Regions from separate parts of the Homo sapiens genome. Here all the other regions are linked to region 2. The links come from fine-mapping of genetic effects on plasma protein levels. A gene starts in region 2. Each other region holds a variant in brackets. All regions are shown on one strand. Distances are from middle to middle.

Region 1 (8,315 bases), 320 kb after region 2:
CATCATTTTTTATGGCTGCATAGTATTCCATGGTGTATATGTGCCACATTTTCTTAATCCAGTCTATCATTGTTGGACATTTGGGTTGGTTCCAAGTCTTTGCTACTGTGAATAGTGCCGCAATAAACATACGTGTGCATGTGTCTTTATAGCAGCATGATTTATAGTCCTTTGGGTGTATACCCAGTAATGGGATGGCTGGGTCAAATGGTATTTGTAGTTCTAGATCCCTGAGGAATCGCCACACTGACTTCCACAATGGTTGAACTAGTTGACAGTCCCACCAACAGTGTAAAAGTGTTCCTATTTCTCCACATCCTCTCCAGCACCTGTTGTTTCCTGACTTTTTAATGATTGCCATTCTAACTGGTGTGAGATGGTATCTCACTGTGGTTTTGATTTGCATTTCTCTGATGGCCAGTGATGGTGAGCATTTTTTCATGTGTTTTTTGGCTGCATAAATGTCTTCTTTTGAGAAGTGTCTGTTCATGTCCTTTGCCCACTTTTTGATGGGGTTGTTTGTTTTTTCTTGTAAATTTGTTTGAGTTCATTGTAGATTCTGGATATTAGCCCTTTGTCAGATGAGTAGGTTGTGAAAATTTTCTCCCATTTTGTAGGTTGCCTGTTCACTCTGATGGTAGTTTCTTTTGCTGTGCAGAAGCTCTTTAGTTGAATTAGATCCCATTTGTCAATTTTGGCTTTTGTTGTCATTGCTTTTGGTGTTTTAGACATGAAGTCCTTGCCCATGCCTATGTCCTGAATGCTAATGCCTAGGTTTTCTTCTAGGGTTTTTATGGTTTTAGGTCTAACGTGTAAGTCTTTAATCCATCTTGAATTGATTTTGGTATAAGGTGTAAGGAAGGGATCCAGTTTCAGCTTTCTACATATGGCTAGCCAGTTTTCCCAGCACCATTTATTAAATAGGGAATCCTTTCCCCATTGCTTGGTTTTCTCAGGTTTGTCAAAGATCAGATAGTTGTAGATATGTGGCGTTATTTCTGAGGGCTCTGTTCTGTTCCATTGATCTATATCTCTGTTTTGGTACCAGTACCATGCTGTTTTGGTTACTGTAGCCTTGTAGTATAGTTTGAAGTCAGGTAGCGTGATGCCTCCAGCTTTGTTCTTTTGGCTTAGGATTGACTTGGCCATGCGGGCTCTTTTTTGCTTCCATATGAACTTTAAAGTAGTTTTTTCCAATTCTGTGAAGAAAGTCATTGGTAGCTTGATGGGGATGGCATTGAATCTATCAGTTACCTTGGGCAGTATGGCCATTTTCAGGATATTGATTCTTCCTACCCATGAGCATGGAATGTTCTTCCATTTGTTTGTATCCTCTTTTATTTCATTGAGCAGTGGTTTGTAGTTCTCCTTGAAGAGGTCCTTCACATCCCTTGTAAGTTGGATTCCTAGGTATTTTATTCTCTTTGAAGCAATTGTCAATGGGAGTTCACTCATGATTTGGCTCTCTGTCTGTCTGTTATTGGTGTATAAGAATGCTTGTGATTTTTGTACATTGATTTTGTATCCTGAGACTTTGCTGAAGTTGCTTATCAGCTTAAGGAGATTTTGGGCTGAGACAATGGGGTTTTCTAGATCTACAATCATGTCATCTGCAAACAGGGACAATTTGACTTCCTCTTTTCCTAATTGAATACCCTTTATTTCCTTCTCCTGACTAATTGCCCTGGCCAGAACTTCCAACACTATGTTGAATAGGAGTGGTGAGAGAGGGCATCCCTGTCTTGTGCCCGTTTTCAAAGGGAATGCTTCCAGTTTTTGCCCATTCAGTATGATATTGGCTGTGGGTTTGTCATAGATAGCTCTTATTATTTTGAGATACGTCCCATCAATACCTAATTTATTGAGAGTTTTTAGCATGAAGCGTTGTTGAATTTTGTCAAAGGCCTTTTCTGCATCTATTGAGATAATCATGTGGTTTTTGTCTTTGGTTCTGTTTATATGCTGGATTACATTTATTGATTTGCATATATTGAACCAGCCTTGCATCCCAAGGATGAAGCCCACTTGATCATGGTGGATAAGCTTTTTGATGTGCTGCTGGATTCGGTTTGCCAGTATTTTATTGAGGATTTTGCATCAATGTTCTTCAAGGATATTGGTCTAAAATTCTCTTTTTCTGTTGTGTCTCTGCCCAGCTTTGGTATCAGGATGATGCTGGCCTCATAAAATGAGTTAGGGAAGATTCCCTCTTTTTCTATTGATTGCAAGAGTTTCAGAAGGAATGGTACCAGCTCCTCCTTGTACCTCTGGTTGAATTCGGCTGTGAATCCATCTGGTCCTGGACTCTTTTTGGTTGGTAAGCTATTGATTATTGCCACAATTTCAGAGCCTGTTATTGGTCTATTCAGAGATTCAAATTCTTCCTGGTTTAGTCTTGGGAGAGTGTATGTGTCGAGGAATTTATCCATTTCTTCTAGATTTTCTAGTTTATTTGCATAGAGGTGTTTATAGGATTCTCTGATGGTAGTTTGTATTTCTGTGGGATCGGTGGTGATATCCCCTTTATCATTTTTTATTGCATCTATTTGATTCTTCTCTCTTTTCTTCTTTATTATTCTTGCTAGCGGTCAATCAATTTTGTTGATCCTTTCAAAAAACCAGCTCCCGGATTCATTAATTTTTTGAACGGTTTTTTGTGTCTCTATTTCCTTCAGTTCTGCTCTGATTTTAGTTATTTCTTGCCTTCTGCTAGCTTTTGAATGTGTTTGCTCTTGCTTTTCTAGTTCTTTTAATTGTGATGTTAGGGTGTCAATTTTGGATCTTTCCTGCTTTCTCTTGTGGGCATTTAGTGCTATTAAATTTCCCTCTACACACTGCTTTGAATGTGTCCCAGAGATTCTGGTATGTTGTGTCTTTATTCTCGTTGGTTTCAAAGAATATCTTTATTTCTGCCTTCATTTCGTTATGTACCCAGTAGTCATTCAGGAGCAGGTTGTTCAGTTTCCATGTAGTTGAGTGGTTTTGAGTGAGTTTCTTAATCCTGAGTTCTAGTTTGATTGCACTGTGGTCTGAGAGACAGTTTGTTTTAATTTCTGTTCTTTTACATTTGCTGAGGAGAGCTTTACTTCCAAGTATGTGGTCCATTTTGGAATGGGTGTGGTGTGGTGCTGAAAAAAATGTATATTCTGTTGATTTGGGGTGGAGAGTTCTGTACATGTCTATTAGGTCTGCTTGGTGCAGAGCTGAGTTCAATTCCTGGGTATCCTTGTGAACTTTCTGTCTCGTTGATCTGTCTAATGTTGACAGTGGGGTGTTAAAGTCTCCCATTAGTATTGTGTGGGAGTCTAAGTCTCTTTGTAGGTCACTCAGGACTTGCTTTATGAATCTGGGTGCTCCTGTATTGGGTGCATATATATTTAGGATAGTTAGCTCTTCTTGTTGAATTGATCCCTTTACCATTATGTAATGGCCTTCTTTGTCTCTTTTGATCTTTGTTGGTTTAAAGTCTGTTTTATCAGAGACTAGGATTGCAACCCCTGCCTTTTTTTGTTTTCCATTTGCTTGGTAGATCTTCCTCCATCCTTTTATTTTGAGCCTATGTGTGTCTCTGCATGTGAGATGGGTTTCCTGAATACAGCACACTGATGGGATTTGACTCTTTATCCACTTTGCCAGTCTGTGTCTTTTAATTGGAGCATTTAGTCCATTTACATTTAAAGTTAATGTTGTTATGTGCGAATTTGATCCTGTCATTATGATGTTAGCTGGTTATTTTGCTCATTAGTTGATGCAGTTTCTTCCTAGCCTCGATGGTCTTTACAATTTGGCATGATTTTGCAGTGGCTGGTACCAGTTGTTCCTTTCCATGTTTAGTGCTTCCTTCAGGAGCTCTTTTAGGGCAGGCCTGGTGGTGACAAAATCTCTCAGCATTTGCTTGTCTGTAAAGTATTTTATTTCTCCTTCACTTATGAAGCTTAGTGTGGCTGGATATGAAATTCTGGGTTGAAAATTCTTTTCTTTAAGAATGTTGAATATTGGCCCCCACTCTCTTCTGGCTTGTAGAGTTTCTGCCAAGAGATCTGCTGTTAGTCTGATGGGCTTGCCTTTGTGGGTAACCCGACCTTTCTCTCTGGCTACCCTTACCATTTTTTCCTTCATTTCAACTTTGGTGAATCTGATAATTATGTGTCTTCAAGTTGTTCTGCTCGAGGAGTATCTTTGTGGCATTCTCTGTATTTCCTGAATCTGAATGTTGGCCTGCCTTGCTAGACTGGGGAAGTTCTCCTGGATAATATCCTGCAGAGTGTTTTCCAACTTGGTTCCATTCTCCCCATCACTTTC[A/T]GGTACACCAATCAGATGTAGATTTGGTCTTTTCACATAGTCCCATATTTCTTGGAGGCTGTGTTTGTTTCTTTTTATTCTTTTTTCTCTAAACTTCCCTTGTCGCTTCATTTCATTCATTTCATGTTCCATCACTGATACCCTTTCTTCCAGTTAATCGCATCCGCTCCTGAGGCTTCTGCATTCTTCACGTAGTTCTCGAGCCTTGGCTTTCAGGTCCATCAGCTCCTTTAAGCACTTCTCTGTATTGGTTATTCTAGTTATACATTCGTCTAAATGTTTTTCACAGTTTTTAACTTCTTTGCCTTTGGTTTGAATTTCCTCCCGTAGCTCGGAGTAGTTTGATCGTCTGAAGCCTTCTTCTCTCAACTTGTCAAAGTCATTCTCTGTCCAGCTTTGTTCCATTGCTAATGAGGAACTGTGTTCCTTTGGAGGAGGAGAGGCGCTCTGCTTTTTAGAGTTTCCAGTTTTTCTGCTCTGTCTTTTCCCCATCTTTGTGGTTTTATCTACTTTTGGTCTTTGATGATGGTGATGTACAGATGGGTTTTTGGTGTGGATGTCCTTTCTGTTTGTTAGTTTTCCTTCTAACAGGACCCTCAGCTGCAGGTCTGTTGGAGTTTGCTAGAAGTCCACTCCAGACCCTGTTTGCCTGGGTATCAGCAGCGGTGGCTGCATATCAGCGGATTTTCGTGAACCGCGAATGCTGCTGTCTGATCGTTCCTCTGGAAGTTTTGTCTCAGAGGAGTACCTGGCCATGTGAGGTGTCAGTCTGCCCCTACTGGGGGGTGCCTCTCAGTTAGGCTGCTCGGGGGTCAGGGGTCAGGGACCCACTTGAGGAGGCAGTCTGCCTGTTCCCAGATCTCCAGCTGCGTGCTGGGAGAACCACTGCTCTCTTCAAAGCTGTCAGACAGGGACATTTAAGTCTGCAGAGGTTACTGCTGTCTTTTTGTTTGTCTGTGCCCTGCCCCCAGAGGTGGAGCCTACAGAGGCAGGCAGGCCTCCTTGAGCTGTGGTGGGCTCCACCCAGTTGGAGCTTCTCAGCTGCTTTGTTTACCTAAGCAAGCCTGGGCAATGGCGGGTGCCCTTCCCCCAGCCTCGCTGCCGCCTTGCAGTTTGATCTCAGACTGCTGTGCTAGCAATCAGCGAGACTCCGTGTGCGTAGGACCCTCCGAGCCATGTGTGGGATATAATCTCCTGGTGCGCCGTTTTTTAAGCCCGTCGGAAAAGCGCAGTATTAGGGCGGGAGTGACCTGATTTTCCAGGTGCCGTCTGTCACCCCTTTCTTTGACTAGGAAAGGGAACTCCCTGACACCTTGTGCTTCCCGAGTGAGGCAATGCCTCACCCTTCTTCGGCTCGCGCACGGTGCGCTGCACCCACTGTCCTGCACCCAGTATCTGGCACTCCCTGGTGAGATGAACCTGGTACCTCAGATGGAAATGCAGAAATCACCTGTCTTCTGCATCACTCACACTGGGAGCTGTAGACCAGAGCTGTTCCTATTCGGCCATCTTGGCTGCCCTCCTCAGTACTTGATGTTTCTATCCTGTCATAAATGGCATCGCTTTGAAAACATTTTATTTTCTAAGCGTTTGTTACTAGTATGTAGAAATTCAATGTATTTTATATGCTGATTTTATATATAGAAATATTGCTAAGTTCACTTATAAATTCTAATATAGATGCTTTTGGATTATCTATGCAAACAACTATAATGTTTAAAAATGTCTGCATCATTACAAAATAGTTTTGTTTCTCCCTTTAGAATCCTCATACCTTTTATTTCTTTATTTTGCCTCATTGCACTGCACGATGTTGAATAGGAATCGTGACAGTTGGCACACTGGGTTTTCTGCCCAATCACAATGAAGAAGCTTTAATGTTTCACCATTAAGTATTGCTTGCTGTTTTCCTTCTTTTTTCCCTAGATAATCTTTAACCAACCTTCAAAAACATTTTTAAATGTCACCTCATTTGGGAATATTTCCATGAGTCATTCAGTCTGAGTTATATTCCCTTTCTCTGCCTGTGCATCCCACTAGCACAGTACTTACTCACCCTGTATTCTAAGTGATTGTTTGATTCTTCCTGTAGCTAAAGAATTTCTTGTGACTAACAAAGTGCCTAGCCCATAGAAGAAAATTGAAACTACCTTTTCAAAAATTATAACAGTGAGAAAAATCTGACCTAACTGGCTCCATCTTGCTTCTAACTTCCAAGTTGCCCTTATTCATTCCCGGGTATGGGCCAAGCTAACTATGGGAGGAATTTAGTATACAGTTTAACTTTAAAACAAAGATGATAACAGTTCCTTCCCAAAACGAATCCCATCGTTGCTCAGTGACTGCAACTGCCTTTGTAAAACTAACAAATTAACCATAAGGTTAGAATTGTGGTTTAGGAGTCATATAGCTGGAGATTACAACATTTAAAAACTCCCCAATTGCTCCTATAGCTAATATCACTATTGTAAAACCTAAGATTGGTGTTTGAGTTACTTTCCAGACCCTATGATTTCATCCTCGACCCAACCAATTAGCATTCTCCATTCCCTAGCCCTCTGACCACTAAATATTATTGAAAAACCCTAGCCTCCATGCTTTTAGGGAGGCAGATTCGAGAAATGTCTCCCATCCTTCCACTTGGCTGGCCCTGCAATTATCAAACTCTTTCTTTCTCTACTGCCATACTTTGGTCTCAATGAATTGGCTTTATCTGTGTGGTGGGCAAGAAGAACCCAACAGGTTCTGCACAAATGTGAATTACAAAATGAATAAGTATCCATTGAATGAATGATGAAGATGGTGCATTGTGGTTTTTCTACATGTGGCTTTTAAATAATTGCTACACTCTATTTTTGTTATGGGGAGGAGAATCTATGAAATAGAATTGGGCCATGTTAGCCCTATTATAAAGTGTTATACACCAAGGAGAACATCTAACTATGGCCAAATGTGTCTGTCTGGTTTTCTTCCCTCCCACTGGGAGAGCCCAGTGGGAGGATTTATACATCCCCACTCTAGTGAACTTCAGAGAGGTCATAAGGTTTCCATTCGCCAACAAAATACAGATGGAGATTACATGAGTCACATCCAAACAGAAGCTTTAAAGGTAATCATGTGAGGCACCATGCCTTTTCTTTTTGTCATGTCTAATGGCAATGTTTTAATGGCCATGTCTAATGGCCAGTGGTCATTTTGCTACTGTAAGGGGCAAGGGAAAACTTTCCCTTTGCCTTCCGAAGGTTCATGGAGAAATCAATTGAAAAAAGGCAGATTAACAGGAGAAAAGGCATACAAATTTATTAACATGTATGGGGAGAACCACAGTGATTACTCAACCCTCCCCTCAATGGGATATAGAAGATTCTATATCTTCTTCAGGTTACAGAAAGAATGGGGGCTCAGAGCATGGCCCAAAACAGGTTATGGTGGCAAATCAGGTTATGGTAGTAAGACTAGTTATGAGGGAGAGAAGAGGAGGCCTGGCTAGCAAAGGTGGTCTTGTTATGTAGATGAAACCTCACAGGTAGCAACCCTCAGAGATAATAGATAGTAAATGATTCTTTCAGACCTATAAAGATGTCAGACTCTCTGTTCGTATTTTCTAAATCCAGACAAAGGAAAGCCTCAGAGAAAGCCTGCCTGCATCAATGCAGATTTTCTCTATAGATGCAAATCTTCACAAAAGACAGCTTCTCAGGGCTGCTTCTGTTTGCAGGCCCTTTAAACAGCCATCTCAAAGAAATATATTTTGGTATGAAATATTTTTATTTCCTTCACTACTGATGGCTTTTCTATCTGTCTGGGTTCCAGAATGAAGACAGAGCCAGCAATAATATATAACAGTCAGGTGACATGAGAGCTAATCTTTGTTGATGTAGGCCACTGCAATTTGAGGGTTCACTTACTACCACAACATAACATAATGTAACGTGACTACCATACTAACATACTTGAAATTCAGCTTCTCAGCACATCTGTAGTACAGTATTATAGTTAATCCAGTTCATATA
Region 2 (8,167 bases):
AGCTCATGCCTGTAATCCCAGCACTTTGGGAGGCCAAGGAGGGTGGATCACTTGAAGTCAGGAGTTCGAGACCATGGAAGCCTGGCCAACATGGTGAGACCCTGTCTCTATACAAAAATTAGCCAGGCGTGGTGGTGCGTGCCTATAGTCCCATCTACTTGGAAGACCGAGGCAGGAGAATCGCTTGAACCCGGGAGGCGGAGGTTGCAGTGAGTGCGATGCCACTGCACTCCAGCCTGGGTGACAGAGCGAGCCTCCGCTGCAAAAAAAAAAAAAAAAAAAAAAAGACATCTTAGATAGTATGTTAAATGTCTGTTCTTAGAGTACATCTGTTAGGAGATGGTCCCTGGAGCCAAACATTTTTATTAGTAATTAATGACATTCTACACTTTTTATGTACCTGATCTGCACTCTGCAGGCTGTGGTCTTGAAGAATACTTGACCACAGCTTCTAGCTTCTAAGTTACAGGGAATATCTCCAGATGGCATAAACTCACCTTCTCTCCAGACCATTATCTTTCACACCATTCTAAAAGGAAGCAGAGTATTAATGCAAACAGAAGGAGCTCTAGGTAGTACCAAAATCACACTAACCTGGTTGCCCAATAGTGAAACAGCTAGAAGAATCAAAGAGGAGTTTGAAGAGCTGAGCAGAATCATGACACTTTTATAGTCTTTACGGGCACGCCACCCTGATTATGAAAATTTCCTTTTGTTGGCCATTTAAGGGTAATTATTAATGGTTTTTGAAACTCAGGCTTAAGACTGCATGAACCCCATAATTAAGGGCAAGATCCAGTAAAGGTCCATCTCGACAGTTGCTTCATGGTTCAGAGTCGTAAGCTTGGATTTTTTTCCCCCTGAGATTATATTTTCCCTCCAATGTAGAATTATATTTGCTCACAGTTCACATTTCATAAAGCTTAGATATAGAGGATTCTTTTCAATTTAGTTGCATATTTAGGCTTTAAAAAATAACTTTCTTCATATCCAGAAAAAATAAATGCTGCCCTGTGCGGTAGCTCATGCCTGTAATCCCAGCACTTTGGGAGGCCGAGGCAGGAGGATTGCTTGAGGTGAGGAGTTTGATACCAGCCTGGTCAACACAGCAAGACATTTCTACTGAAAAATTTAAAAAATCAGCCAGGTGTGATGGTACATGCCTGTAGTCCCAGCTACTGTAGAGGCTGAGGTGGGAGGATTCCTTAAGCCTGGGAGGTTGAGGCAACAGTGAGCCATGATTGTGCCACTGCACTCCAGCCTGGGTGACAGAGTGAGATCCTGTCTGTAAAAAAGAAAAAATGCTGTCATAGAAGGACAATATTACATAGTTTAAAAAATTACGGTATGGCCATTGAAGTCCTTCTGATGTCTTTACATATTAGCAGCTTAAATATTTGAATACATGAATGAATGAATGGAAGTATTGCTTCAGAAGCAGGTTTAAGAAGTGGAAAGAAGATACTCAGTAATTTGTGGTTTTATTTGGCAAATCAATATTGAGTAACATGGTCATTTTTTCAGCTCTTTCATTATTTGTTGGTCCTGTGTCTGCTTTTTATTTCTCATTATCCTTTTCCTTACCAAATATATTTCGTGATCATTCGAAAAACTTGTGAGAACACTCGACTTACTCTTGTTCAGTTGGAAATACTTCAAACTTTTTGTAACTGCCATGATTTAAAATTGCCAAGGAGATTGATTTCTACTGGAAAGAGTTCCATGAAATAAGTAGGACATTTCCAAGGGACATTGATCTAATGCTGATTGTAACTCACAGGAAGGGGTTCCAGGTGGATTTTAAGAGCACTTTACAGCTTTGAAACACTTGTACACTTCCACACTTATAGAATTTTCCCTGACTCTGCCTTATATCACCTACAAACTGAGGACTGGACTATTGGGACTGTATTTCTCCCTGATGTTTCTCAGCTCTAAAATTCTAGGGCCTTATTTACATTGGAGAACAAATGGGAAATCTAATAGAATTCCTTAAAAGCTTCCCGCCAGTCTTGAGCATTTATCATTCCATGTGTCTTTGCTGTCTTGTATATATTCTTCTTGTTTTTATTATGGATTCTTTGACTTTGCTATGCACCAATATAGAATATGTATTAACTCACTGGTTGGAGTAAAGACAGGCATTTTATTTTTAGTTATAAGATTTTACACAAAAATATTCTGATTTTGGCAATGCATTTTAATCAAGATTTTAGAAAATTGCCAGTGTTTTTACACATATGTTCTGTTTTCCTGGGAGGAAGTAGGCGTTTGTGCTTAATCATAACAAGAACTATCTTTTTTTAAACATCTTTTAAAAAATATTTCAGATCTACAGAAAAGTGGCAAGAATAGTGCAATGAACACCAGTCTGCCTTTCGACTAGATTCACTAATTGCGAACATCTCCACATTTGCTTTCTCTTTCTCTGGACAGATACTTTCCTCCACCCCTGAGTCATTTGAGAATCAATTACAAACATCCAGATGCTTCCCCCCTGAGCACCTCAGCATCTGTCTCCTAAGGACAAAGACATTCTCCTATGTAACCACAATGCCATTATCATAGCCCACGTCAAATCTCTCCAATTGTTGAATAGCATCTTAAATCATCTTTTCTCTCAAATTACCACTAGTGAGCTAAAATCAAATGGGGTGTTTATTATGTTTTGCATCTGGTTTTTTTGTTTATTTTTTTGAAGCCACTTCACTGTGTCACTCAGGTTGGAGTGCAGTGGCGTGAACACAGCTCACTGCAGCCTCAACCTCCATGGGCTCAGGTGATCCTCCTACCTCAGCCTCCCGAGTAGCTGGGACTACAGGCATGTGCCACCATGCCCGGATACATATATATATATTTTGTGTATTTCTTGTAGAAAAATACAACATGGGTTTTGCCATGTTGCCCAGGATGGTCTCCAACTCCTGGGCTCAAATGATCTGCCCGCCTCAGTCTCCCAAACTGCTGGGATTACAGGCGTGAGCCACTGCACCTGGCCTATTTTTTGCATCTGAAGAAATGATTTTAATAACTATATGTCATCTTAGTAACGATATAGGATGAAAGATAACATGTTCTATATAATACACCCATATATTACATATGACGTGTGTATGTATATATAAAAATTATCTCTAAGAAAAACTTTTGGAGCAGTATTGGTTAATAGTCTTCTAGGCTACAAATCTCTTCTTTCAAGGGACAACTTCTGATTAGAATCAGCCCAATGCGGCCGGGCACGGTGGTTCACGCCTATAATCCCAGCACTTTGGGAGGCCGAGGTGGGCGGATCACCTGAGGTCAGGAGTTCGAGACCAGCCTGACCAACATGGAGAAACCTCATCTCTACTAAAAATACAAAAATTAGCCAGGCGTGGTGGTGCATGTTTGTAATTCCAGCTACTCGGGAAACTGAGGCAGGAGAATTGCTTGAACCCGGGAGGTGGAAGTTGCGTTGAGCTGAGATCCTGCCATTACACTCCAGCCTGGGCAATAAGAGCGAAACTTTGTCTCAAAAAAAAAAAAAAAAAAAAAAAAAAAAAGAATGGGCCCAATGCTGCCTATTGTCAGAATTTATACTTGTAGCGAATGCTAGCAAAACTTGAACTTGAAAAACAGCCTGTGCGGCTTCTTAAGTTTTTACTTGCTCACTTCTACCAGTCACATCTCTTGTCTCTTATTTTTCTCTTTACCCATAGACTTAAAAGCATGAGGGTAAACTTGCACTTGGAAGCATGAAAAATCCACTAATAGATACTCTTGTGAAACATTAACTAAAAATATATGGAGACAAGTGATAATTACAGGGTGTGTTCACAAGAGTGCGTTTTGAAACCAGAGAAGGGGGGAAACGACAGGCACAAGGGTGGTAATGGGAAAATGGAGAGGCAAAGGTTATTTATCACCTCACTGTTCAATTGTTTGATCTTTGGACAGGCTTAATTTTTCCTAGGAAAGCCAAGAGTAACATATTTTAAGAGCTCTGGGCACCACAGGCTTCTGTGGGTTATTCTGCTTGAAGGTGACAGCATGCAATGTCTTGAAAAGCACCTTCAGGAAGAGGGTACAGTGTTAGTACCTGGTCCCTGCAAAACAAAATGGGTGTGAAATGCTATCCATGGGTTCTTGTTATCTTTGATCCTGAAGTTTAAAAGAGACCTTGAATACTCAAATGCTGCTTTCCCAGAAAGTATAGCTTGCTTGTCACCTGACCTGGTGTCTACCTTCCCTGGACCTTCAGACAAAGTTCACTTCCAACCTTTGCCTGGGCTGTGAGGCTCACTGTCTTTTGGGTCAGCCTGTGCTCACCTTCAGCAGTTGAGTTCCCAGAGGTCTCCTGACCATAGCCTGTGCTTCTTGAGTGCGTATCTTTACTATGGGCAGTGTGCTGACCTAGGCACCCAACTCCCACGGCCTCCTTAAATCCTTGCTGCAACTTTATGAAGTGGATGCTGTTGGTCCCCCCAGTCTGTAGAGACATCCAAGGACCTGCTCAGGGTCACACTGCTGGTCAGCAGTAGAGCTGGGATTCAAGTTCAGGCCCAGCCTGCACCCTCAACCACCGTGCCACATGCCCCTCCCAGGAGAAGGGCTTCTCTGAGGACAACCATTGTATGTTAACATTAGGACCACAGGTAGTATCACACTTAAGTGTTAGGTTTACATCTGGAGGTATAAGAAGGTTCTTTTTCTGAGGTGTAAGAAAGTTCTTTTCCTGATGAAAATGATATAGGCCTTTGTCTGTTTTGCACTGCTATAACAGAGTACCTGAGACTGGCTAATTTATAAAGAAGAGAAATTTATTTCCTCACAGTTCTGGAGGGTGGCTGGGAAGTCCCAGATCAAGGTGCTGGCATCTGGTGAGGGCCTTCTTGCTGTGTCATCATGTGGTAGAAGGCATCACATGGGTGAGAGAGAGGGAAGGGGACTGAACTCATCCTTTTACCAGGAACCCATTCCCATGATAACTAACCCATTCCAATGATAATGGCATTAATCCATTCATGGGGGCAGAGCCCTTATAACTTAATTGCTTCTTAAAGATTCCACCTCTCAACACTGTTGCACTGAGGATTAAGCTTGCAACACATCAACTTTGGGGAATGCATTCAAACCATAGCAGCTTTCTTTTACTGGTGGGGAAAAAAACAAGTTTAAAAGACTGGAAAAATACATACGTACTTATGGGACTGCTCATTGATTTCCTCATTGTAGATTCCATTCTCACACTACTTGGTGACACAGCAGCGCAGGTTGGAAGCCAGAAATGGGAAATAAACTGCTTCAGGTTAGAGGCAGGACTCTGTCAGGCAGGACTGGGCATAGTGTGTACTCGGCCTCTGAGTAGGGCACCACCCCTCCCTTCCCGTCTGCTGAAGAGACTCACCTGCAACTTGGGACATCCATGAGTATCTCAGACACCCCTCTGCTACTCTGTGGCCCACTGACCCATCCCTTAGTCTCCCCTGTTAGTTTTTAATACACTTAAAACACTGTGAGATTCCAGGCCGGGTACAGTGGCTCATGCCTGTAATCCTAGCACTTTGGGAGGCTGAGGCGTGTGGTTCACAGGGTCAGGAGATCGAGACCATCCTGGCTAACACGGTGAAACCCCGTCTCTACTAAAAATACAAAAAAAAAAAAAAAAGTTAGCCGGGCATGGTGGCGGGCGCCTGTAGTCCCAGCTACTCAGGAGGCTGAGGCAGGAGAATGGCGTGAACCCGGGAGGCGGAGCTTGCAGTGAGCCGAGATCGTGCCACTGCACTCCAGCCTGGGCGACAGAGCAAGACTCCGTCTCAAAAAAACAAAAAACAAAAAACACTGAGAGATTCCATTATTGAGTACTTGATCTGAACTTGACACTGTGTCGAACTCCTCAGTGGAGATGGAAAATAAAAAGATCTAATCCTTGTGCTTGATGAGCCTACACTTAATTTATGAGAGGAGATGCATTTATGAAATAATAGAGGAAGTTAAAGCTGTTTGTAGTAAATAACGGTATTAGATTCCTATGGCTGTTGTAACAAATTACCACAAACACAGTGGCTTAAAACACATATACATTTCTTCTGGAAGTCAGAGATATAAAGTGGGTTGGCAGGGCAGTGTTCCTTCTGGAGGGTGTACGAGAGAATCCATTTCCTTGCTTTTTCCAGCTTCTAGAGGCCACTTGCCCACGGCCATCCTCCATCTTCAAAGCCAGCAGCATAGCATCTTCCAGTCTCTCTGATCTCTGCTTTGTGGTCATATCCCCTTTTCTGACCCTGACCCTCCTGCCTTCCTGTTTTAAGAGCCTTTGTGGTTACAATGGGCCCACCCTGATAATCCAGAATCTTCCCTTCTCAAGAGCCTCAATTTACAGGCTGGGCATGGTGGCTAATTCCTGTAATCCCAGAACTTTGGGAGGCCAAGGCTGGAGGATCATTTGAAGCCAGGAGTTCCAGACCAGCCTGGGCAACATGGCGAAACCCCATCTCTACAAAAAAATACCAAAAAATTAGCCGGGCATGGTGGCATGCACCTGTGGCCCCAGCTACTTGGAAGGCTGAGGTGGGAGGATCACTTGAAGCCAGGAGTCAGAGGCTGTAATGAGCTATGATCATGCCACTGCACCCCAGCCTTGGAGACAGAGTGAGATCCTGTCTCAAAAAAAAAAAAAGATCCTCAACTTAATCACATCTGCAAAGTCCCTTTTGCCACAGATTCATAGGTTTCAGGGACTAGGATGCGGATATCTTTAGGGTAGGGGAGGCATTATTCAGTCTCCTACTATGAGTTACTGAAAATGAATTGATGATGTATAGGTTATTTATTTGGTAGGCTGAGCATAACAATGGCATTAATTATGAGGCAGTAAGGGGAACTGGAGGGGGCCCCTAAAGCATGAGGAATGGGAGGGAGAAGGTATCTTGGGAAAAGTAGAGAAGGAGGTGGTCTGTGTGTAGTATGGTGGTGGGTAGGAGAGTGGAGGTGCCATTGACAATGGCCCCAGCTAGCTGTGGTAGAAGCTACAGGTTCGAATACATGAGGAGGGCATGGCTAGTCTGGGCTCCTGTGTGAGGTAGGACCTGAGAGCCACCCAGAAGAGTTTAGGTTTAGTCTGTAGTGATGGAGGCTGCTGGAGCTAGCAGTGCAACCCAACATTAGGGAAAGTAATGCTGATGTAAAACTGCTTGATACTTTATGTACAATTTGAATATGACTTAGAATCAAAATCAGAATCAGGCTTGAAAACCTAATGAGCAGTAGGAAAGGAATGAATTGGAGAATACTTGTAAAGAATACTAGAGGAGGCCGGGCGTGGTGGCTCATGCCTATAATCCCAGCACTTTGGGAGGCTGAGGTGGGCGGATTGCTTCAGCCCAGGAATTCAAGACCAGCCTGGGCAACATGATGAAACCCCGATGCTACAAAGTGGAAAAAAAAAATGCTAGAGGAAATTGCTGTATGTTGCCTAAGAGTCTGGAAATAGAAATAGCTGCTGGTGAGTAGGCTTTCCCTTTGTCTCCAGGTGAAATATTCAACGATGAGGAACAAAAGGAAAGCTGGGCTTACCAGGGTAGGTCAGGTAGGTCCAGTCAGGAATTTCACTGTTGCTAAGAGAACCTAACTCCTGTAGACTTTGTTGTTTAAGGCACCTGGGATGCTGTAAAGTCTTGAACTCATTACACTTTTATTATGGGCTGCAGAAAACATCAGTAAAGGTTAATTAGTGCCATATTTATCCTTACATGCTGATTTTACATCTCCTAAAGCTTTATCACTTATTGATCCTTTTTTATTTTTCTCATACTATATGGCTCAGTTCCAAGAGAGGACAAATCTGGGGATCAGATGACAGCCAGTATTTAGGCTGAATTAGAGGAAGCAAAGGCAATCCTTTTGCAATGGAAGATGCGTTTTCCTTTCAGATGCAAAAATCTAGAGTATTTTGGAAATGTTGGTGTTAAATCTAAAGCATATTTGAGATTATTTTCTTTAACCACCCCAGTAACAATAAAATAGATATGTTTTGAAACTGTGATGTTCTCCTGTCTCTCAGGCTTTTAGTGGAAGGAATGCAAGGAACAAAGACATTTTTGTTAATTTTTGCTGCTGAATCAGGTTGCTTATAACCCAAGAGGCAGCCAGCCATCATCATCTTGTAGGATCCAGCTTGTAGGATCAT
Region 3 (8,315 bases), 240 kb after region 2:
ACTAGGCACATTTCAAGGGCCTAATAGCCACATGGGACTAGTGTCCACCATAATGGACAACACAGGCATAGACAATGCCTTGGACAATAAGGGTACATCATAGTCACCAGTAGAATTTTACTTAGGCACAAAAAGAAGCTGTTAAGTGCTAGGATTTTAGAAAATACCGTAGTTACAGCTTAGTGTGATCCACAAAGATTTGACTGTCTCCCTTATAGTATGGCCAGCTTTATACTGCATTAACCAGGCTCAAGAGATCAGAGATGGGGGGTACGTGGGGCAGGTTAATGGGTACCAAAAAAAAGTTAGATAAAATGAATAAGACCTACTATTTGGTGGCACAACAGGGTGACTATAGTTAATAATCACTTAATTGTACATTTTAAAATAACTAAAGGAGCATATTGGATTATTTGTAATACAAAGGGCAAATGTTTGAGCGGATGGATACCCCATTCTCCATGACGTGATTATTACACATTGCATGCCTGTATCAAAACATCTCATGTGTCCTATCAATATATACACCTACTATGTACCCACAAAAATAAAAAAAAAGAAATCAGAGAGTGGGGAGAAATTTTACTTATCTAGATTCATATAATAACTTGACCTCAGAGAACACAGAGTCAAGTTATCTCATATTATAAATGGAGGTAACTGAGGCCCAGTTAAGCCTTTAAGTGATTTTTCCAAGGTCACACAGCTAGTCAGTGGCAGAGCCAGTCCTAGGACCCAGTTATTGACCCAACATTTATTTAGCAAGTTATCAAGAGCCTTCTATGTGTAAGATACTGTGCTATATGCTTGGGATATAAAGCCATTAAATTGCAGTTTCTGTATATGAGGTGTTGACAGGTAAGAGGGGGAGACAAAGGATAGGAATCATACTCTAAGACATTCTGGATGTTATACACCATGTATAGTGGAGCCCAAAGGAGGGGAAAGTGGTGAAAGGGGTGAGGTCTGGGAAGACTCATCTGTTGCCCACTTTAGTGCTGCCTGTAAGCTCCAGAATTCAAAACATGGGAGCCACTTGACCCATTAAATAACACATCATTAAACGTGGAATTTCTTTCCTTTTGAATATAGTTAAGGATTTTCCTCTCACATATTTGGGGCATGTCTTAGCTTGTGTTTCCTGAAAAGCAGATCCTGAGACAAAGACTTGGGAGCCAATAATTTAATTGGGAGGTGATCCCAGGATACCCAAGTTAGGGAGTGGGAATTGGGGCAAGGAAGAGAGAAAAGCCAATAAAGGGTGAGTGAATGTGTGGATTACAACTGCAGATGACTGGGGCTCAATCTTATTGGGGATATTGGGAGACAATGTAGAGCACACCTCAAAATTGTCCCAGCCTGTGAAGGTGAACCTGAGGTGTGTATCCACTGAATCTGGCTCCGCCTTGGTTGATTTAATCTGAGGGTGTTAAATCTGAGCTTCTTGGTGCACAAGCTCTCTCGAAGGCAGAGGGATATGGGTGCTTGAAGCAGGGAGCTGTCAGGGAGCCCAGGGAACAGTCCACCGTAGCAGCAGGTGGAGTCTGAAGTGTCAGGAGGGGAAACGAAGCAGGGCACCAACAGCATCTGCCATGGGAAATTACCCTCACTTTTTCAGTGTTAAGTCTGAATATCTTCCGTGCAGGAATGTTTTCCTGTACTGTATCGTCAAGTTTACTGTTTGCCCCAGTTTTCCTGCTTCCCCCTCTACAATGCCTGTTTTTAGAAGCTTGTATCTTTGTTCCTGTTGCTGTAATCTTTTTTTTTTTTTTTTTTTTTTTTTTACCATTTTCATCCTTTTGTTCTTTCCCCTCATTATTTTTGGAGTGCTGTGTAAGTTTGCCTTATACATTTTTTATTTGTTTCCTAATGCAGATTCTGCTCTTTTGTTGGCTCTAGTGGATACTTCTTTCTTTGTAGTTTCCTTGGATTCTTTGCAATTTGTCCCAGCTCTTTCTTCACCCTTCTATTTTCATGCCAGCCTTGCATGCTTTTATTTCTTCTTTCATTGCCTACTTCACAGAGTTCAGATTTTCTTATATATAAGGATGGTGCAAACGTAATTGAGGTTTTTGCCATATTTTTGAGAACCTAACTTCTTCCTGTTTCCCCACAGTTGCATACTTTCTTGATCTTTGCTGCTCAAACTGTGGTCTAAGCACCACCAGCATCAGCATCACCCAGGGGCTTGTTAGAAATGTACATTTTCAGACTCCACCCCAGACTCACTGAATCAGAATCTGCATTTTAACATAACATGCTCCCCTGCCCCCACTGCCACCCTCCCCACTTCAACCAGGGATTTGTATGTGTCCTGAGAGTTGAGAAGCACAGGTCCCTGGTTCCCTGGGAAGGAGCCTGGGGCGTGATTAGGAGCACAGACCTTCAATTTTTATTTGAGTCCCAGCCTTGGCACCAATCAGCCATGTGACTTTGAAGATTTAATTATCCTTCTGGGACTTCAGTGCCTCTCTCATGGGGTGGCTCTGAAAATTAAGGTAGGTAAGTATGTGAAGTGCTAAGCAGAGTACCTGGAACATCAGCATTTGAAAAATAACTGCTATGTGATCAGGTTTTAATGTTGCAAAATATTTTTATTGATCTTTTCATGTTAAATTCTTTTATTCCCCACCTGTGAGTTCATCCTTGCAAGAAAGAGATCTAGCCTGACCTGAGTTTTGCAGAAGATGAGGTAATACTACTCTCTCTCTGGTTATGTTCATGGACCAATTGGGGTTTGTCATAATTTCTGCCTCAGATTGTAACTTGAGGGAGTGAGTTGATGGGTACAGGTCTTAGCCAAATTCTTGGTATCTATAATCCTAAGCGACTCAGAGGGTTGTTTTCCTGCAGAAAAGGTGTGACTCAGACCTATTCTCTCCAAGGTAGGGGTGGATATTGGGGGGTCAGTTACATTCCACTCCTTCCTATTTCCTCTCTGGCTCTGTCCTGTTTCGAAGGACTAGGAAGTGAATACGACAATTTAATGTCAAGCTCATCTCCCCTACGGCCAACAGAATTTCTACTAGTGGGAGGCAAGTCATTGATTGCTTTGCTCAGCTTCCAGGACTTCTGTGAAATAAAATGTCCTGTGCATCCATGGGTGTTCTGCAGTGATAATGGAAACTGAGGAGCACACAGTGCTAGCTAGCTGCCATCACACCTGGAAATTCAGAAGTCTTGCATTTGATCTGTGCTGACCTTTGTAATTTGAGTTTTATGCATCCCACATATTAATACATTATTCATCAGGAAATCCTTAAACTGCCTTTCATTAGCCAAATTGAAATTTAAGTATATCATCTGATGAGTGAGTATTTCAAGCCATCATATATTGGTGCTACCTGTCATTCATCCATCAGGTTTAAAAGCATCTCCATCTTTGCACAGCAGTGCTTGTGCCATTATTTGAATGTTTTATTATATTTTATCTTTATTATTTTGTAAAAATGTCAGTGAGAAAAGCCTAGATCTCAAACTCAATATAGATTCTTAAGCATGGTAAAAGCTGATAATCTTTATTTGGATGCTCATCAGACTTCATAGGTACACTATAATAATTATGATGAACATGAATAAAAATAATGAACATCTCCAAAATTCTGAAAATTGAAGTGTGTCAATATGTTGATGTGTTTTGGATTTTTCTAATTTTAAAATTTTTTGGGAATTGAATCCTCTTATGCTATCGTTTGACTTTGTCACATTGGAATTCACACACATGGATAGAATGACATCTTGATCAAACTACGAGGCTGTTATACTATAGTATTTATGATGCAAACATAGTTATGATTTTTCCTATATTTTTTCTCTAAGTTTAAGAACTGAAAAGATGGAAATTCCTATTAATTGATAAATACTCATGTTCTTTTTTTTCATGAATATGTGAAGTGGTTTAAATAGTTGCTTGTGGGTTTT[T/C]CCCCCCTGGGATATTGCCAGCACTAAATAAATGATTGAGGGCTTCGGGTAACTTTCCCTAGTTACTATTAACTTCATAACAATCACAGAATTACCAAACTAGTTTTATGATAATCCAGAGGCTAATACATCATTGACTAGCTTTTACAAATGCCGCGGCTTATTTTTTCCCCCATTCCATTCGGGAAAAGGCATTTTTGGGTCCTCAATTTTTGGTTGGAGAGTGGTTATTTTAGAAACAAAAATGGTGTTATCATTTTATATGGGTTCAGAATCCAAATTCAAGTTTCTCTATGAGCCCACGAAGGTCCCTGGTTTCTAAAAGTATTCTGATATGCCTAAAGGTGATCAGAAAGAGTCCTGTTAATACATGTTGGGACTACATGTGGAGTGAGATAGATGTGTTTTTCGCCATCTACTGTGTAATCTTGGGAAATATACTTATTATATGGGTTTCCTCATCTGTAAAGAGGAACTAATAAGGGTTAATTAGATATTAATCTAATAGGTTGAAGGTTGAACTAAACCAGTTTCACCTGGCCTATGGCACCCTTTTAGCAGCTCTTAATAGTTGTTAATAAAGTATCGATGGATTTAATTTATTCATTCACAAACTTAATCACCAACACCATTAGTAACTTTATTCTTCTCAGAAAACCCACTTGATGAGTTCAATGACTGAATGCTTGAGAGCTCAATGATAGGATGAACTCTCCTATCATTAGGATGTCCATGACTAAATATACACTGCAGTGGGTATAAGTGGGTTCTGTCAAGAGCCTATCTGTGTGTCAGGAAGGGCACTCAATATTTATAAAAACATTTTTTGCACTGTATTATCTTCGAAATAGGTGAATGATTTTTGACAATACAGCCTATAGACATGCTACAATGGCTTTCAAAATAATTAAGTAAGTTGAAGCTTAGAAACATGTACAATCCTAATTTCTGTTCCTACAATTATACTTACCTAGGAGTGCTGGAATAATCCTATAAAACCTTGCTGGACCATTTGTTTGTTGGGAGGCAATTCTCCAACGGTAATTTGCATTTCTGCACATCTGGGCGAATGCATTAACAGATTTGTGTTCCAGACTAACTTTTCAAGGACGTTTGCATAATGAGGAGCCTTAGAAGGTAGAGAGAGTGTCTCCCTCCAGAGCAGAAGGTAGATTTGTTTGCTGTCCAGGATAATGTGTCTCTCCAGGGCAGGTTTACTAGTAGCCCTCTTATCAAAGGTTGGGGTTTCCTAAGCTTGGAACTCCTTTCCTGTAATGCACCTGTAATGTATGTTCAGGCATCGTCTGGCCCTCATTGCATCACCCTGTGGAAACTGGGATTCAGGGAACCAGTGCACGTGATGTTATTTTAGCTGTGGCTATTGCTGTCCTTTGTCTCTGACCAGGAGTCTGGTCATTTTATGTGCACAGAAGATAGAGTATGGGGCTGGGGCTCTGAGAGATTTCATCCAGTTACTCCCAACCTTTGCATCCCTTTCTTAGCCCTCCACACAGAAGGGACCAAAGGCTAATAATCGGACTTCTGAGAGTCTTGTGAAGTTAAAGGAGATAATTCTTGCAGCACGTTAAGTGCAGTGTCTGGCACAGAGTAAATGCTCAATAAATCATAGCTATTTAATTTTTCTTCTATTAAAGGGCTTTGGATACATTTCCCCAAGGTTCATCTGAGTATGATTTTGGTTTTCTCTTAATTGATGGATACTTGTGTCTCTGATGATTGGAGTGGCCATTTGAAAATCAGGTCTAAACGACCTTTCAGGAATCATACCTAAACATTTTATATATAAAGAAGACACAGTAGTTATTAGTATGACTTATTCTATGCACTAGTTATTAGTAGTTTAGTGTGCTGGGTCTGAACAACTAAGACGGCATATCACTCCCAGAAGCTGATTGACAGTAGTTATTAGTATAGTGCATAGAATTAGTATTAATATAGTGCATAGAATAAGACAGATAGTCAGTATTAGATATGATTTTAATGAAGATGGTGGTGGTGATGATGGCTGTTAGTGTTACTTTCTCCTTCATTCAAATCACTTATTTCACCTTTTATTCTATTGTTCATCCCGGTTCTTCTCCACACGCTGGTTATACATACAATTTAAAGTTGCCTAAGCAGAGAAAAGGGAACCCTTATACGTTGTTGGTGGGATTGTAAATTAGTACAACCACTATGGAGAACAGTTTGGAGGTGCCTCAAAAAAGTAAAAATAGAGCTACCGTATGACCCAGCAATCCCACTGCTGAGTATATACCCAAAAGAAAGGATATCAGTATATTGAGGAGATACCTGCACTGCCACGTTTGTTGCAGCACTGTTTACGATAGTCAAGATTTGGAAACAACCTAACTGTCCATCAGCAGATGAATGGATAAAGAAGATGTGGTACATAAACACAATGGAGCACTATTCAACCGTAAAAAGAATGAGATCCTGTCATTTGCAACAAGATGGATGGAACTGGAGGTCATTATATTAAGTGAAATAAGTCAGGCACAGAAAGACAAACATCACATGTTCTCCCTTATTTGTGGGACCTAAAAATCAAAACAATTGAACTCATAGAGAGTAGAAGGATGGTTACCAGAAGCTTGGAAGGGCAGTGAAGGCATAGGGGACTTGTGGGGATGGTTAATGGGTACAAAAAATGGTTAGAAAGAATGAATCAGACCTACTATTTAATAGCACAACAGGTTTACTATAGTCAGTAATAATTGCACCTTTAAAAATAACTAAAAGAGGCCGGGCATGGTGGCTCACGCCTGTAATCCCAGCAATTTGGGAGGCCGAGGTGGGTGGATCACCTGAGGTCAGGAGTTCGAGACAGCCTGACCAATATGGTGAAACCCTGTCTCTACTAAAAATATAAAAACAGCCGGGCGTGGTGGCAGGCGCTTGTAATCCCAGCTCCAGCTACTCGGGAGGCTGAGGCAGGAGAATTGCTTGAACTGGGGAGGTGGAGGTTGCAGTGAGCCAAGATTGTGCCATTGCATTCTAGCCTGGGCAACAAGAGTGAAACTCCATCTCAAAAAATAAATAATAAATAAAAATAACTAAAAGAGTGTAATTGGATTGTTTGTAACTCAAAGGATAAATGCTTGAGGGGATGGATACCCCATTTACCATGATGTGATTATTATGCATTGCATGCCTGTATCAAAACATCTCACATACCCCATAAACATATACACCTACTATGAAACTGGATGCCTTCCTTACACCTTGTATAAAAATTAACTCAAGATGGAATAAAGGATTAAATGTAAAACCTAAAACTATAAAAACCCTAGAAGAAAACCTAGGCAATACCATTCAGGACATAGGCACGGGCAAAGGCTTCATGACTAAAACACCAAAAGCAATGGCAACAGAAGACAAAATTGACAAATGGGATCTAATTAAACTAAAGAGCTTCTGCTTAGCAAAAGAAACTATCTTCAGAGTGAACAGGCAACCTACAGAATGGGAGAAAATTTTTGCAATCTGTCCATCTGACAAAGGTCTAATATCCAGAATCTACAAGGAACTTAAACAAATGTACAAGAAAAAAACAACCCCATCAAAAAGTGGGTGAAGGATATGAACAAACGCTTCTTGAAAGAATACATTTATGTGGCCAACAAACGTACGAAGAAAAGCTCAACATCACTGGTCATTAGAGAAATGCAACTCAAAACCGCAAAGAGATACCATCTCATACCAGTTAGAATGGCAATCATTAAAAAGTCTGGAAACAACAGATGCTGGCGAGGATGTGGAGAAATAGGAATGCTTTTACACTGTTGGTGGGAGTGTAAATTAGTTCAACCATTGTGGAAGAGAGTGTGGTGATTTCTCAAAGATCTAGAACCAGAAATACCATTTCACCCAGCAATCCCATTACTGGGTATATACCCAAAGGATTATAAATCATTCTACTGTAAAGACACATGCACACACATGTTTATTGCAGCACTATTTACAATAGCAAAGACTTGGAACCAACCCAAATGCCCATCAATGATACACTGGATAAAGAAAATGTGGCACATATACACCATGGACTACTATGCAGCCATAAAAAAGAATGAGTTCATGTCCTTTGCAAGGACATGGATGAAGCTGGAAACCATCATCCTCAGCAAACTAACCCAGGAACAGAAAACCAAACTTCACATGTTCTCACTCATAAGTGGGAGATGAACAACGAGAACACATGGACACAGGGAGGGGAACATCACACACCAGGGCCTGTAGGGGGTGTTGGGGGAAAGGGGAAGAAGAGCATTAGGACAAATACCTAATGCATGTGGGGCTGAAAACCTAGATGGCAGGTTGATAGGTGCAGCAAATCACCATGGCACATGTATACCTATGTAACAAACCTGGAC
Region 4 (8,315 bases), 73 kb after region 2:
AATTAATTTTTATTGGGGATTTCCCTGTGGGGCTACTGCCACTGGGGTTAACCCCCCAGACACTCCCATGAAGCCCCTGGTCACCTGGGGCACCTTTTGGCTGGGAGGAGCAAATGCCCTTTCTTTTTGGAGCTGAGAAAACTCAGTCTCTCATTTATCTATGAAAACAATAGCTCAGTTCCTCACGCAAATGAGCACAGACAAGCTGAATTGAGATTAATTTTGGGAGAAAAAGCAATAGAGAAGACCCCTTAGAATGCATGCCTGAACTAGAATTAAGATCCTTAACAAGTTCCTAGGAGAGAAAAAACAACAGCAGCCGCCAAGACCATTTCCTGTAAACTGTGCTCAGCCACCCCTACTTTGTAGCTCTTGTCCGCCATTACACACACCAAGGTCAAATCTTCTCACAGTACATGGTAATCTCTGGTACCTCCAAAGCCAAAGAGGTCAGGTCAGGCAATACAGGAAAACAGAGCTTTCATCCTAAGAAGAATCTGTCCATGACTCTTGAAACTCCACAAAGAAAACAGAACACCCCCTACAAAGAGGTAAGTGGCACCTTTGTTCTGAATTCTTTAAAGGAGTTCAAGTCATTAGAAGCCTCCTCTAGAAGGGAAGGAGGTGTAGGGTGAAAGAAAAGTAAATGAAAGAACTTTTTTTTTTTAAGACAGGAAGCAAACACAGAAACCAAGGGCATTGTTTTTTGTTTTTGTTGTTGTTGTTTTCTTTTTTCCCTCTTTTGCAGCTGCAAGGAATTTGGGCCAAATTAGAGAGGCTTTGTTACCCATAATTTGGAATTCTCACTCAGATCGGACCAAGTCAGGTAGAGTTGGTCAAATCTGATGGGAGAAAGACCGGAATAAACAACAATAACAAAAAACCCCCAACATGATCACCGAGCGCTCTAACGGTAAAGAGAAATTAAGACCAGCTGGTAGTTAAACTTTAACCAAGACAAAACCCCAATTCAGCTACTTACCTAGGAATGGGTCTCAGGCTGAAGACTGCTTTCTACCATCCTAGAAGCAGGAAAAAAACCCTCAAACTCATCTTCCTTGCTGGGAGTGAGCTCAAACTCTATAAGGCAGTTACCTGCCTTCCATTGTCATGGAAACAGGAAATCCTACCTTCCTTGTTGGAAGCAAGGAAAACTCCAAAAAAAAAAAAAAAAAAAAAAAAAGGAGTTGTATAGCAAAATAAACTTTTGATCTCAAGCAAATTTTGGGGATTCTCTGGAGGGAGTGCTTCCAGACCTCAACAAATTGTCCTATTGGTTTGAGCCATAAAGTTAGCTCAGGCTGGTACCAAGCACTGATAGGAGATTTGCCTAAGGTCAGGGGCATCTCCACATATAATCCCTTCGTGGTTGCCAAAATATGAACCCCCAAAGTCTGAGACAAGTCTCAGTTAATTTAGAAAGTTTATCTTGCCAAGGTTGAGGACATGTGCCCATGACAGCCTCAGGAGGTCCTGACAACATGTGCCTAAGGTGGTAGGGGCACAGCTTGGTTTTATACATTTTAGGGAGACATGAGACATCAGTCAACATGTGTCTGGAATTGGTGGGCTCTTGGTCTCACTGACTTCAAGAATGAAGCCACGGACCCTCGCGTTGAGTGTTACAGCTCTTAAGGTGGCGCGTCTGGAGTTTGTTCCTTCTGAAGTTCGGATGTGTTCGGAGTTTCTTCCTTCTGGTGGGTTCGTGGTCTTGCTGGCTCAGGAGTGAAGCTGCAGAACTTCGCGGTGAGTGTTACAGCTCATAAAGGCAGTGTGGGCCCAAAGAGTGAGCAGCAGAAGGATTTATTGCAAAGAGCGAAAGAACAAAGCTTCCACATTGGGGAAGGGGACCCCAACGGGTTGCCACTGCTGGCTCGGGCAGCCTGCTTTTATTCGCTTATCTGGCCCCCACCCACATCCTGCTGATTGGTAGAGCAGAGTGGTCTGTTTTGACAGGGCGCTGATTGGTGCGTTTACAATCCCTGAGCTAGACACAAAGGTTCTCCACGTCCCCACCAGATTAGCTAGATACAGAGTGTGGACACAAAGGTTCTCCAAGGCCCCACCAGAGTAGCTAGATACAGAGTGTGGATTGGTGCATTCACAAACCCTGAGCTAGACACAGGGTGCTGATTGGTGTGTTTACAAACCTTGAGCTAGATACAGAGTGTGATTGGTGTATTTACAATCCCTGAGCTAGACATAAAGGTTCTCCAAGGCCCCACCAGAGTAGCTAGATACAGAGTGTGGATTGGTGCATTCACAAACCCTGAGCTAGACACAGGGTGCTGATTGGTGCATTTACAATCCCTTAGCTAGACATAAAGGTTCTGCACGTCCCCACCAGATTCAGGAGCCCAGCTGGCTTCACCCAGTGGATCCCGCACTGGGGCTGCAGGTGGAGCTGCCTGCCAGTCCCGCACCGTGTGCCCGCACTCCTCAGCCCTTGGGTTGTCGATGGGACTGGGTGCCGTGGAGCAGGGGGCGGCGCTCGTCAGGGAGGCTCGGGCCGCACAGGAGCCCACGGAGCGGGGGGAGGCTCAGGCATGGCGGGCTGCAGGTCCCGAGCCCTGCCCCACGGGAAGGCAGCTAAGGCCCGGCGAGAAATCCAGCACAGCGCTGGTGGGCCGGCACTGCTGGGGGACCCAGCGCACCCTCCGCAGCCGCTGGCCCGGGTGCTAAGCCCCTCATTGCCCGGGGCCCGCAGGGCCGGCCAGCTGCTCCGACTGCCGGGCCGCCAAGCCCACGCCCACCCGGAACTCCAGCTGGCCCGCAAACGCCGCACGCAGCCCCGGTTCCCGCTCGCGCCTCTCCCTCCACACCTCCCTGTAAGCTAAGGGAGCCGGCTCCAGCCTTGGCCAGCCCAGAAAGGGGCTCCCACAGTGCAGCGGTGGGCTGAAGGGCTCCTCAAGTGCCGCCAAAGTGGGAGCCCAGGCAGAGGAGGCGCGGAGAGGGAGCGAGGGCTCTGAGGACTGCCAGCTCGCTGTCACCTCTCAAACATATGTAAAATGAACATTGGTTCCATCTGGAAAGGCAGGACAACTGGAGATGGAGAGGAGGCTTCCAGGTCACAGGTAGGTGAGAAACAAATGGTTGCATTCTTTTAAGTTTCTGATTAACCTTTCCAAAGGAGGCAATCAGATATGCATTTATCTCAATGAGCAGAGGGATGACTTTGAATATAACGGGAGGCAGGTTGGCTCTAAGCAGTTCCCAGCTTGACTTTTCCCGTTAGCTTAGTGATTTTGGGGCACCAAGATTTATTTTCCTGTCACAAGATTAATGGAGAAATATGATAGGGCAAAGAGTATGATCTGGGGTAGTGAACTGGGGGAACTTAGCAAGGCTTGTTCATTCACATTCTTCTCTGTGTCCCTGTGTCTTCAGAGATAAGAATGCTCCTTTGCTCCAGCTGTAGGGACGGCACCTCTCACCTAGGGTCTTATGACCTCCGTCAGAGGAGAAGGGCAGGGAAAGGTCAGAGAGACCTTCCTGCTATTGTGGTTTCCTCAGATTTCTTCAGCTTCAAATACTTGATA[C/T]GCTGAAGTGACATATTTTGGAGTAGTATGTCCTGAGCCCCATCACAAGCAGCTTCTTTTTTAAAAAAATAATTTCAACTTTTATTTTAGATTTGGGGGTATATGTGCAGGTTTGTTACTTGGGTATATTCCATGATGCTGAGGTTTGGGGTACAAATGATCCCATCACCCAGGCAGTGAGCATAGTACCCAATTGGTAGTTTTTCTGTGCTTTCTCCCACACTCTCTCCCCAGTCTAATGGTCCCCAGTGTCTATTGTTCCCATCTATTTTCATGTGTACTCAATACAAATAGCTTCTGTTCTTTGAGACTGATGTCCCTGAATATCACTAAAAGATGATGGCAAATTCCATGGACGTCATTCAGTTTCATTGCTCCTGAGTGAGGCCCACTTTCCATCCCTGTGGCTTTGTCTGTATTACCTGCTTCCTCTGAGACAAATAACAGTGAAAAGCTGGGGAATCCAGTTGATACCATTTGATCATAGAGCTCATTTTTAAGCTTGAGTGTTGTCTTAAACTTTCATCTTTTTCTTCGACACGAAATTGTTTTGAAGATAGATGTATTGTTTCGATTTGTTTTCTCTGAGGGAGACTATGCTTTTAGTCAATATGCTGGGAGAATTCTATAGAGTAAGATAAAAGCCTAGAACCTGGAGGATGGAGCCAGCATCCCAGGAAACTAAAGTTTTCCAGGCTGAATCATCCTCTCAAGGGGATTCTCTGAACTAGAGAAACCTCATCACATGCCACAGACCAGGATGATGAGACTACTTGTCATGATAATCACTTCTGTAGAGAATTTAATGGTAAGAGATTGATATTTGGATAATTTATATGATCTACATTTCTGGAATAGCAATTTCTGAGTTGATTTGCACAATTGTTTCAGTGTCTTCAGAGGTAAGAAGATGCAAAAGTAATTTTCAACCCAGAATGTGACTTCTTTGTTGCCAGCATTGATTCATACCAAGATTTCTGATAGGATGAGATTTTTCTTTTGTGGCTTTTGAAACATCTTTGCTTTTCTGAGGGACTATCACAGACCCTATGGTTTTATCTCATAAACTAGATGTTTTTCTCCTGTTCCCCCCATTATCTTTCCTTTTTTCCAAACTTCCTAAGCATAATTCTTTTATAATTCTTTTTTTTTCTTTTTTCTGTTTTTTTTTTTTTTTTTTTTTTTTTTTTTTTTTTTGCGATGGAGTCTTGCTCTGTCGCCCAGGCTGGAGTGCAGTGGTGTGATCTTGGCTCACTGCAACCTCTGCCTCCCGGGTTCAAGAATTTCTCCTGCCTCAGCTTTCCAAGTAGCTGGGATTACAAGCATGCATTTTCATGCCTGGTTAATTTTTTCTATTTTTAGTTGTGATGGGGTTTCACTGTGTTGGCCAGGATGGTCTCGAACTCCTGGCCTCAAGTTATCCACCCACCTCAGGCTCCCAAAGTGCTGGGATTACCAGCATGAGGCACTGTGCCCAGCCCTAAGCATAATTCTTTACTTGAATTAAAAGATTTATTTTAACCTGTTTAAGAATGAAAAAGTAAAGAGCATGATTACAAATTCTGTATCATACAAAGGAGGCGTTATTTAAAGATGTGACTTCCCCCACCTCCTACCCCTAACAGGCTCAGGCCTGCCTATTTTTGTAAATAAAGTTTTATTGGAACACAGCCGCACCCATTCCTTTATGTCTATGGCTGCTTTCATGCTACAAAAGGAGAGTAGTTGACACAGATTCACAAAGCCTAAAACTTTTACTATCTGACCCTTTACAGGGAAAGTTGGTCAACTGCTGATCTAAAGGCTGTGATGCAAGAAAATCTTTTTCAAGGCTTCAGTAGAATCCAAGTTTTAAAACCCTTTTTTCTATATAGTGAAGATAGTCTCTTAAAAAGGTTTTAAAAGAATGTATGACATGAGGTTCCAAAATAAAAGGTCACAGAAAAGTCTCTCTTTAACCTCTGTCCTCAACTACTTTGTTCCCTTCCCTGGACGTCATGTTACCAGACTGTTCTGGGTTCTTCTAAAGACATATCACACAAAAATGATTTTTTTTTCTATATTGTTCAAGCGGCATTCTTATTTCAGGTGAGATTCTACTTCTCTATTTAGTGAAAAAGATAACTATGAGAGATACTAAGGAAAAATGTACAGGGAAAAGGCTAATAATTAGTTCAGACTGTCACAGGTATTGTACACACATTGATGGGCTTGACTCTGAATGATGCAGCAGAGAATACAGAAGACCTGTAAGATATGATCCAGCTGGGGAAGGCCTTAATACAATGCTTGAACCAAGTCCTGAGAGAGGAGTAGGAATTGAGTAGATGCATCATTGTATTGTAAATGCAGGCAAGACCAATTATTAGCTAGCATCCCAGACACTTACCAAAGATGCTCCTCAGGCCCAGTGTGTCCAGCTTCTCAAAAAACGTTGCCCAGAATCAGAGCATCCTGAAAGTTGTGAGTCACTGTGAAAGCTGTCACTCTTCTTATTAACAGGCAGAGACATCCCAGGTTTTAGAAGAGCTCCAAGATCCCCTTTCTCTTTCCTTCTTTACGCTAGCTGCTCTGTAGACCTATGCTATCCAAAAAATATAATGTGAGTCACCCACATGCATTACTCGAAATTTTCTAGCAGCTGTGTTAAAAAGTAAAAAGAAACAGGTGGGTTGGGCACAGTGGCTCGTGCCTGTAATCCCAGCACTTTGGGAGGATGAGGCGGGCAGATCACTTAAGGTCAGGAGTTCAAGATCAGCCTGGCCAACAGGATGAAACTTTGTCTCTACTAAAATACAAAAACTAGCCAGGTGTGGTGGCATGCACCTGTAGTCCCAGCTACTCGGAAGGCTGAGGCAAGAAAATCACTTCAACTGGTGGAGGTTGCAGTGAGCTGAGATCACACTACTGCACTCCAGTCTGGGAGACGGAGTGAGACTCTGTCTCAAAAAAAAAAAAAAAAAAAGAGGTGAAATTACTTTTAGTAATTGAGTAATTTTAACCCAATATATCTAAAACATAGATTCCAAGATGTAATCAATATAAATTTTACTAATGGAATATGTTACATTCCTTTTCCCATATCAAGTCTTCAAACCTTGGTGTAAATATGACACCTGTAGCATATCTAATTTCAGACTAGCCACATTTCAATGCTCAATAGCCACATGTGGTAATGAAACGGGAAAAGTTCCCTTGTCCCCCTTGCAGGGTGTGCCATGGGGTTGTGGCTTGCTTCTTCGGTGCCCCGCTTGTGGTACCCCTAGGGGAAGCATGCAGATGGGCAGGTTGTGGAGAGCGTGGGCTCTGACCCCACAGCAGCATCTAGGGTTGAGTGTTTACAACTCCCGAAGCCCCAGTGGGCGTGTGTTACAATGCGCTTTTTCAGTTTTGCCGTCCACAGGCAGCTTGTGTTAATCAGCTCAATTAGACCCTCTGTCTTATTGCAAGGACAGAAGGCTTTCTGTATCCCGGGTTCTTGCCTTAGTGTACTGGAAAAATCGGATCACACGTGGGCCTTATTGAATGGCGGAAGTAGCTCTCAGCAGATGGATGGGGAGCCAGAAGGGGGATGGAGTGGGAAGGTGGTTTTCCCCTGGAGTCAGGCTGCTTTGACCACCCTCCACTGAACTCCGTGTCATCCCACCATTCTGCAGTCCATGGCTTGCCAGAGTCTGTCAGTGTGTTCTTCTGCTGGTGTGTTTTTCTGCCCCTCTGCTTCTCTAGATGTCCTGCCGCTTGTGTGCTCTTCTGCTGGTGTGTTCCTAGCTGCTTGTGTCTCTGCCCACTAGGGTCCCAGGGTTTTTATAGGCACAGGATGGGGGCATGGTGGCCCGGGGTGGTCTTGGGAAATGCAACATTTGGGCATGAAAACAGAAATTCCTGTCCTCACCTAGGTCCGTGGGCACAGGCCTGGGGGTGGAGCCCTCACCAGGGACCCCATCCTTCTCCTCCCAGCACTTCCCTGTCCTCCTACCATATCAGTAAGTGACAACAGATTGAAAAGCACAGCTTTAGACTCTGTAAAAAGGGATGTGCAGTGTTAAAGAAACATTTTTCAATGTCACTTGTTAAACAACAATAAGGCAGCGCCTGGCACCATGGCTCATGCCTGTAATCCTAGCACTTTGGGAGGCCAAGGCAGGAGGATTGCCTGAGCCCAAGAGTTCGAGACCAGCCTGGGCAACATGGCAAAACTCTGTCTCTACAAAAAGCACAAAAATTAGTCAGGCATGGTGGTGGATGCCTGTAGTCCCAGCTACTCGGGAGACTGAGGTGGGAGAGTCACCTGAGCCCAGGAAGGTTGAGGCACAGTAAGCCATGACTGCCCCACTGCACTCCAGCCTGGGCGATAGAGTGACACCGTTTCAAAACAACAACAACAACAACAACAACAACAACAATGACAACAACAAAAACAAGGCAGACTTTATTCAAGGGGAGGGGGACTATCATGATTGGTGTAGGGATCACTGCTATGGGGTCTTGCTGTGGGGGAGAGAGACTGGGCTCAGTTCCAACAAGGACAAGGGGTGATTTGTAACCAAGGGTCAGAGTAGGGTCAGTAGATGGAATATTACTAAGAGGAAACACAGGGGTAAAGGGGATTCTTCTAGACCCAAAAGAATTCTTGCTGAAGGCAGGCCAGGGTTGTAAGATATCAAGGGTGGCAAGATACCAAGGGTGGAGGGTTTTCACTAAACTGACTTAGGAGGATTCTTGTGCAAACTGAATTCCACAAGGACAGAGAGGGAAGCCCAAGGTCAGGCCTAGTCG

Alleles and levels. Positions count from the first base shown, and alleles are read on the strand shown. Strength reflects both the effect of a copy and how common the allele is.
With allele A in place of T in region 1, the plasma level of the protein whose gene starts at base 640 in region 2 is lower (weak association).
With allele T in place of C in region 3, the plasma level of the protein whose gene starts at base 640 in region 2 is lower (weak association).
For the plasma level of the protein whose gene starts at base 640 in region 2, allele C in region 4 goes with a lower level than allele T (weak association).

Evidence for each region. A credible set is the group of variants that fine-mapping cannot tell apart. PIP is the chance, under the fine-mapping model, that this variant and not a neighbour inherited with it causes the effect. The UK Biobank Pharma Proteomics Project read protein levels with antibody pairs (Olink). The fine-mapping took linkage between variants from a reference panel, not from the people measured, so its PIPs are less certain.
Region 1: its variant is the best candidate, but not a certain one, in a credible set for the plasma level of the S100G protein (UK Biobank, PIP 0.85).
Region 3: its variant is the best candidate, but not a certain one, in a credible set for the plasma level of the S100G protein (UK Biobank, PIP 0.56).
Region 4: its variant is the best candidate, but not a certain one, in a credible set for the plasma level of the S100G protein (UK Biobank, PIP 0.60).

What each region holds. Positions count from the first base shown.
Region 1 is chrX:16,319,158-16,327,472 of GRCh38, reverse strand. No RefSeq gene overlaps it. Among named protein-coding and RNA genes, the nearest start is that of MAGEB17-AS1, 150 kb to the right of the region's middle. The variant A/T (reference allele first, on the strand shown) is at 4,303.
Region 2 is chrX:16,642,631-16,650,797 of GRCh38, reverse strand. S100G (S100 calcium binding protein G) reads right to left here and starts at 640. Exons shown (of 3, transcript NM_004057.3): 1 at 595-640. The region is part of intron 13 of CTPS2 (CTP synthase 2); the gene reads left to right.
Region 3 is chrX:16,397,917-16,406,231 of GRCh38, reverse strand. No RefSeq gene overlaps it. Among named protein-coding and RNA genes, the nearest start is that of MIR548AM, 230 kb to the left of the region's middle. The variant T/C (reference allele first, on the strand shown) is at 3,922.
Region 4 is chrX:16,569,953-16,578,267 of GRCh38, reverse strand. No RefSeq gene overlaps it. Among named protein-coding and RNA genes, the nearest start is that of MIR548AM, 53 kb to the left of the region's middle. RefSeq lists enhancers at 1-495, 2,009-2,512. The variant C/T (reference allele first, on the strand shown) is at 3,540.